Linked DNA regions of Homo sapiens. The protein of the gene in region 2 purifies or fractionates together with the protein of the main gene of each other region. This does not show direct contact. Each region holds a gene or a part of one and is shown on either strand. Other genes may lie near its edges.

The links. Proteins that work in one complex are often made in the same cells at the same time.
Region 1: the proteins of RNF152 (region 2) and C9orf40 purify together in Homo sapiens (affinity purification with mass spectrometry; one large-scale study listed by BioGRID and IntAct). This does not show direct contact.

Annotation. Positions count from the first base shown.
Region 1 is NC_000009.12:74,950,813-74,954,412, forward strand, and holds the start of C9orf40 (uncharacterized protein C9orf40), read right to left. Parts: upstream 2,101-3,600; 5' UTR 1,800-2,100; coding exon 1,374-1,799; intron 1-1,373.
Region 2 is NC_000018.10:61,812,814-61,816,661, forward strand, and holds part of RNF152 (E3 ubiquitin-protein ligase RNF152), read right to left. Parts: intron 3,786-3,848; 5' UTR 3,651-3,785; coding exon 3,039-3,650; 3' UTR 1-3,038. UniProt on the Homo sapiens protein: E3 ubiquitin-protein ligase that acts as a negative regulator of mTORC1 signaling by mediating ubiquitination of RagA/RRAGA and RHEB.

The DNA.
Region 1 (3,600 bases), on a different chromosome or scaffold from region 2:
CATCTCCCAAGTCCCCTGCCATTCAGGATTGTGAAAAAGTAGTATGAATTCCTAAGTCTAGACCAAAGCTGTCCAATAAATATATAATGCTCCAAAAACATAATTTAAAATTTTCTAGTAGCTGTATTTAAAAAGTAAAAGAAACTTCTGGTATTAATTTTAATATATTTTCTTCAATATAGCCAAGTTATTTCATGTGTAATCAATATAAAATTGAGCTATTTTATCTTCATTTATTAAATCCACGAAATTTCGTGTATATTTTAAACTTAGAGCACATTTCCATTTGGACTAGTCACGTTTCAAGTGTTCTTACCGGCTAGCGGCCGGGCAGCAGAGATCTAGGCAAACCGAGGCATACCTAGATCTTCTCAGGATTCTTACATGCAGAGATGAGGCAGGCTCATGTCTTGAATAAAAACCCGCCAATGATTCTCATATACGCCTTAAGGCCCAAATTAATTTTCTTTTTTCTTTCTTTTCTTTTCTTTTTTTTTGAGACAGCGTCTCACTCTGTGGCCCAGGCTGGAGTGCACTGGCCCAATCTCAGCTCACTGCAACCGCCATCTCCCAGGTTAAAGTGATTCTTGTGCCTCAGCCTCCCGAGTAGCTGTGATTACGGGCATACACCACCACACCCAGCTAGTTTTTGTGTTTTAATAGAGACAGAGTTTCACCCTATTGGCCAGGCTGGTCTCGAACTCCCGACCTCAGGTGATCCACCCGCCGTGGCCTCCCAAAGTCCTGGGATTCCAGGCGTGAGACACCACGCCCCGCCCCCAAATTAATTTTCAATGATACTTTTGCCTAGGATCAGATTTAACACTATGAGTTAAAACAAAGCTTTGACCAAGGTACGGTGGTCCATCCTTTTCTCCAGAAGCTGTACCAGCCGGTAGGACGTTCAATTAATCAATGGCTACCACACTGGTCTCCCTCTAGAAAAAGAACTCTATCCCGAATTCTAGACTAATCATCGTTAAACCCAGGAAGGCCCTCTACACCTTTATCTGTCGTTTGTCTTTGGGCTGAACCTATGCCCTGACGGTCTGCGTTCTCGCCATGCTCACAGCCCGCCACGACCCACGGTCCCGTTTCCCTTTTACGGAGCGCGGCGCTGACGCCGCAAGGCCACTTCTATCGCTCCCGACCACGGTCTGTTTCCCCCTCGCCCAGCCCAGTGCTTTCTGCCCATCGGACTCTCGGGGTGTGCTTCTGGCGGTCGGCGTCCTCTCCCGGAGCGGTGACCCCTTCTTTCAACCCCCTCAGGCGTCTTAACCTACACAAGTCATGAGTGGGAACCGGGGCGTTTTGTGTGTGTGGGGAAAAGGCAAGCCCCTTCGCCCCTCAGCCCACCCGCCCCCAGCCCCTACCTGGCGCGATGCGACCCCCCAGTCTCCCCGCGGGGGTCCTGCGCGCCCCGCCCCGTCGTCGCCACCGCCCCCCGGGAGCCGGGCGCCCGGGAGCTCCTCCCCCGGCCCCGGCAGTACGGGCGGCGGCGGCAGCGGCGGATCGCCTGTCTCCAGACCGTGGTCCTCACGCTCCTGGCCGCTCGGGGCGCTGTTGTCCCCGCTGTCACGGCGCTTGCTGGGCGAAGCCGAGGGCTCTGCCATGGTCCCTGCGTCGATTTTGCGCTTTCGGTGCTGCTCTGGGACGCCGAGGAGCTGCCCAGCATGCGCGACCCCGGGCGGCCGGATCCAGAGAGGCGGTGGCGGCGGCTGCTCAGCGAAGTCGCAAAGCAGGAGCCGCTTCCAAGGCACGTGGAACGTCACCGGCTCGGCCGCACGCCGCTTGGCCATGGGCCCAGAGGCTCGGGCGGAGCCCGCCAGGCGCGGGAGACCGAGTGCCGATAGCTGCGGGGGGCGAAGAGCGAGGACTGAGCGCGTGAGAGAGGGACAGGCCGAAGTCGGGCGAGGAGGCGACAGGACGCTGGAGGGGGTAGGGCGGGGCAGCTCGCGCAGGGCCTAGGGCTGGGGCTCCGGCTCGGAGGCAGCTCCCGCGCTCAGCCCTCGCCGCCGCCGAGATGCGGCCCGGACGTTGAGAAGCAACCGCGAAGCGGCGGAGATTCGAACCTGCGCACAACGTGCGCGCGCGCACTCTGTCTGGCCAGGCGGAGCCGCTGGTTGGTGGAGGCTCGCGGGGCGCGCTCCCGAGCGCCCTCGCGACCGGAAGTGCGCGCTCGGGGGTAGGCGGGAAGGCCGCGGCGGGATTAATTAAAGACCCGATCAAGCGGCCCGCAGAGGGGCGTGACCTTGTTTCCTCAGGAGTGTGGCGGTGGTCTTACTACTATGTTCGTTATAGCGCGGTACGTTCTAGACCCTTCTATAGGAAATTTAAAACCTTTAAAATGTGTATTTCCTTCCTCCAGTCAGTGACCACGGGGGCGTCTCCATGAGATTAAGACAAAGATTATAATAGAGTTCCAGACTATCCTGGGCAACATAGCAAGACCTCGTCTCTACAAAAAATCAAAAATAGGCCAGGCTTGTTGGCCTGCCCCTGTGGTCCCAGCTACTCGGGAGGCTGAGGAGGAAGATTCACTTGAGCCTGGGAGGTGGAGGCTGTAGTGAGCCAGAGATCGCACCACTACACTGCAGCCTGGGCAACAGAGCGAGATGCCGTCTCAAAAAAAAAAAAAAAAAAAAGGAAAAGGATAATACAAGCTTTAAATAAAACTAGTGTTTAAGAAGCTTCACAGTAGGTTGTTATTCAAAACAAAAGACTGAAGGGAGTCTGGGCTGAGGGAAGTAGCTAAAGCTAACAGAAAACACAAATCGAAGTGTATGTTTTGCATGTTTTGCGCAGCTGCTGTGGAAGGTGAAGCAGGCCCTACATTCCTGGAAGATCTCTTGATTAAAAACTTATGGAGGAAGTTACAGACAAAATGTGCAGCTCATCCAAAATAGCTGAGTAGTTGGCAAGAACCAAGCCTGAAGCGCAGCTGTCCTTTCTAACTGAAACCTAAAATTGTTGGGCTCTTAATTAATGTTGGAAGGCTGAGTTCCCTGCTTACTATGGGCGGTGGTCAGATCAAGATTCTATGGCCATTACAGCAAAATAGTGTTGTCAGGTGAAGTGAGGTGGAGACAATTGCAGTATATTTACTATTTTATTATTTTTATTTTTTATTTTGTTTGAGACAGGGTCTCTCTCGGCCACCTAGGCGGGAGTGCAGTGGTGCCATCACGGCTCACTGCAGCCGGGCCCCACTGAGCTCAAGCGATCTCCTGTCTGGGCCTCCCAAAGTGCTTGGTTTATAGGTGTGAGCCACCGCATCTGGTCGTATTTACTATTTTAATAGTTTGATAAAGACAGTAACCAAGTAAGCAGAAATGGAAGGAAGAAAATAAGACTATTACCAGTGCTTTGAAGGGAAAAACTATCATCCTCTGTAGAAAAAGTGTGCAAGAAAGATAATTCTATTTTAGTGCTAGGTACTATCTCAGTACTAATTTACCCTGTACCCCTGCATCTCAAGGTGGTTGTGAGAGGACAAGTTAATTATTAGTTATTAACAAGCACAGAAATGTACCAAGTTAGGGTAGTAAGCAATAGCTTTTCTGTTTGGTTTTTACTTTTCTTGTTTGAAATTGGTAACCG
Region 2 (3,848 bases):
CCCAGAGAGGTAGATGCTAACTAAAATGAGTACATAAACCTACAAAAAAAATTCTTTAAAGCAATAGTTGACTCAGTAAAGGGTATTCATCAACCCTAGAAAGGATCATAGCCAGATAGAGATATAGACAGACCTAGGATGGAGCAAGAAGACACTGCAGTGCGAAGTTCATATCCCCCCCTTTCTGCAGAATTACAAAACGGACTCATCTACAAAATGAAGCCACCGGAGGCTGCTTTCAGCTCTTTCTGTGCTTTCCAGTTGTGACTTTTCATTAATGTGCAAGTATGAATCCTGGCCTCTTGTGTCAGTGGACTTTGGTCACATGGGTAGATGTGTTTGTTAAGGGTCATTGGTAAATGCCAGAAGAGGCCAGAGCAATGGGATGCCAAGCAACATTAAAACATCATTAAGCCTATAAAATTCTATCTGGGAGACTGAGATTCTCTCTCTCTCTCTCTCTCTCACACACACACACACACACACACACACACACACACACATACACAAGAATGCACACCCCAACAAACAGGTACACAAATAACTGCAAGCAGATCCATTTAAACAATTTAAACAATGTTTCTTAGGTCAGTAAGACTCACAAAAAAAATCTGATTTTGGTTGTTGTTGTTAAATTTAAGGTCAAGAATCTACCATACAGCCGATTAATTTTGCACTGCTTAATGGCAACTCTAGCATGGGATTGTTTTTAAGTAAAAGTTCTATGGACATTTTTACTCTACAGATTTGCACTAAGAAACACAGGACACTATCATCACACACATTAGTGTCTATATCTAACCTACTTTAACAAGTAGAACTCTATCACGTACTATACTACAGGGTCAGTCATTTCACACTGTACAGAAACATATGCAGATATCACTCACAAAATTAATCTGAATATGGCATAGCTTAAAATTGCAAGGGCAAAGTCTATTCGAAATGTAGCATTCTTAATGCAACACTTCTGTGGTGTGTGTGTGTGTGTATTTTCCTCCAAGAGAAATAGAAATTAGGTCAGACATGCATTATGGCAGCCTGGGAGAGTTTGAGAAATTGACACTAACCCAACAGTATATTATGTTATGTAATAGAGGATAGTATTCAGCTAATATGACACCTAAATTATTAATACCAAATAAATCCTAGATTATTTGTTGTATAATGCCCAAGAGCTTACACAATAAAATGGCATTTTAACCTAATTTCTATTTTGAGCTTTCAAATACATTTCCTAAAGGTTTTATGATCAATTTGAAAAATCAGAGCTCACAATTTTATGTTGAATTCTCATGCCAATTAGCAGTATTAGCTTTGTATTCTAGCCATTATATTTTTGTTTTATTTCACATTAATTCCATCACTTTTATATGCATATTTTGTGCTGCTTGAAGATAACAGACAGCATGTAAATAAATTAAATTGTCTTGACCTCACAGGGCTATTTTCTAGCCTTGCTTTTTGGAATTAGCCCTGCTTGTCTTTCCTTCACTTCCCCCCACCCTCCTCACCATTTTCAGGGATTCAGTGGAACATAAAAACAGTTATATTTATAAGTGGAGTCCTTGTCACATACCACTTGCTTCATGAATTCCATAAAAGAAGTTAGATGAGAGCTGTAAAGCTCACAGCTATTTCTGAATGCACATGCACCCAGGGATAGGAATTTATCACGTACTTGTAGCAGATCTTTCTTCATGAGCATCTATAGATCATTACACATTTAAGAACATTTGACAGTTTATGAGGAACTGGTCCACTTATATTGGGAATTTGAGCTGTTAGTTTACCTTGCCACCTTTCTTGGTAAAAACGTGTTAAAATACAGGAGATCTTCTCTCATATCAACAAGAGGAAACAGGAATTCTAACTGGCTTAACTCTTGTGGAAGAGCATCTTTCAAAAAAGAATCACAGGCCATTTATTAAAATGCCCGCCTGGGTTGACCATCAGTCACAACACTCATGGCCAGTGCAAGACTCCAAAACCAGGAGAAAAGACACTCTTCTGTTACTCTCCATTTGCCTCTTACAAAATGCAGGACTTAAATACACAGAAGAGGAGCGAGTGTTGCAGGTGACGTGTAGGAGACCACTCGCTGGGTCAAGATGTCCAAGAAGTGGCCACCGCTTCAGAGACTTGACTCATTCATGCCCAATGAAGTCTTCATCCCAGGATTCTTCAGCAAAGACTCAAACACCTGAGGTAAATCAAATTAGACACACACACATACACACACAAATACACAATATTTACATTTGAAATTCTTATTTTGTGAGATGGCTTGAGGAAAATCGGCATACAGGTTTTCCCATGGGATTAGACATTTCTCATGATTTCTCGGTTTATTGCTCCCCTGTTGAGCTTTCAGTTCCATAAACACGTAGCAAGCTCTAATTACAAGTGAAGAAAATGAAGGTTCATGACAAAACACAACACATTGGAGACACTTGTTCAAATATTTCCTCCAAATAAAATGACTGTCCATTTTGACTTATTTTGTTTTGGTGCCATTCAAAATGTATTAAAAGCCTTAGCAACTAAATGAAGACTGGGTTTCAATAAAAAGAAAAAAAAAATAAAGAAGCCAGCAGTGCATGTCTTCACTGAATTTTTACACGGATTCGCAGGTTTAATTCTACTTGTCTACAGAGCATCTTTGTTTGAATCTACCGCATTTAGAGAAGGTCACATTGTACGCACTTGTACAGTTTAACGTCTAAGTAGAATATGTCTATCTTGTAACATGATTTTGAAAAATCATAAATTACAGTCCATTGAATACATGATTATGAGGATGCATGCAATCATCTTCCAAGCTGTTGCCATCAACACTCAGAACAATTCACCTGGTATCTTGTTGAGACCGCACCTTCTGCCCTTTGTGTCTGTCTTGGGGTAATCAAGAGGCAACCCAGAGGCCAGCGCTCAGCACCAAATGGTCAGTGTTGCCCCCCATCTTCTCACTGGGATCTCATCATCAACCTGCTCAACCCCTAAGTTGGCACCCACAAGAGACTTCCCTGCAGCCCTCTTCAGCCACAGGATATCACAGTGAAGCGCTTAGAAATGCAAGACATGTTGTGAAGCACGATGCCGAGGAGGAAGACCAAGACGCAAGCCACCAAGATGACAGTGCACACCCCCGACCAGGTGGAGCTTTTCACCACGCCCCGCCTGTCCTGCTCCTCCTCCACCGCCTCCTGGGGAGCCCCACCTTGCAGAGGCTGCTGTTCAGCAGGGATGGTCACCACGGTGACGGACTTCTGCTGGCTCCCGGGCAGCAGGCGGCAGCCCATGTCTCCGGGCAGCAGCGCACGCTCCTTGGAGATGGGCAGGGGCAGCATGTAGCACCCATTGCTGGGAAGTTTGATGAAGACCGGGGTGTGTTCGGAAGTGTGTGGAATGGCGATGACAGCCAGGACCTCCGGGTCGTCCGGGAGCTGCGACACGGAGAAGCCGGGAGGCAGCTTGGTGACACCGCGGCACCAGGGGCACCGCACATCCTTCTGGCTGGTCCTCATCTGCTGCAGGCACACTGAACAGCAGGTGTGCTTGCAGTCCAGCAACTTGGGCCTGCGCCGGGGGCTGTAGTAATTGAAACAGATCTGACATTCCAGCAGAGAGTCCTGGGACAGCGTCTCCATGGTGGACCGTGAGCAGGAAGGGCAAGGCCAAGGTGAAGGGGAAGGAGCTGCTTCTCAGAGGCCACCGCCCTGTGTCTTTGCAGTGCAGGTAATGGCAAGCTCACAGGCATCCAGTACTCACAGGTGTGTTCATTTCTGAGAGAGACAAATAATGCAAACAATCTTAATTATTTCAAAGAAGTTGAGATGTCAACATAT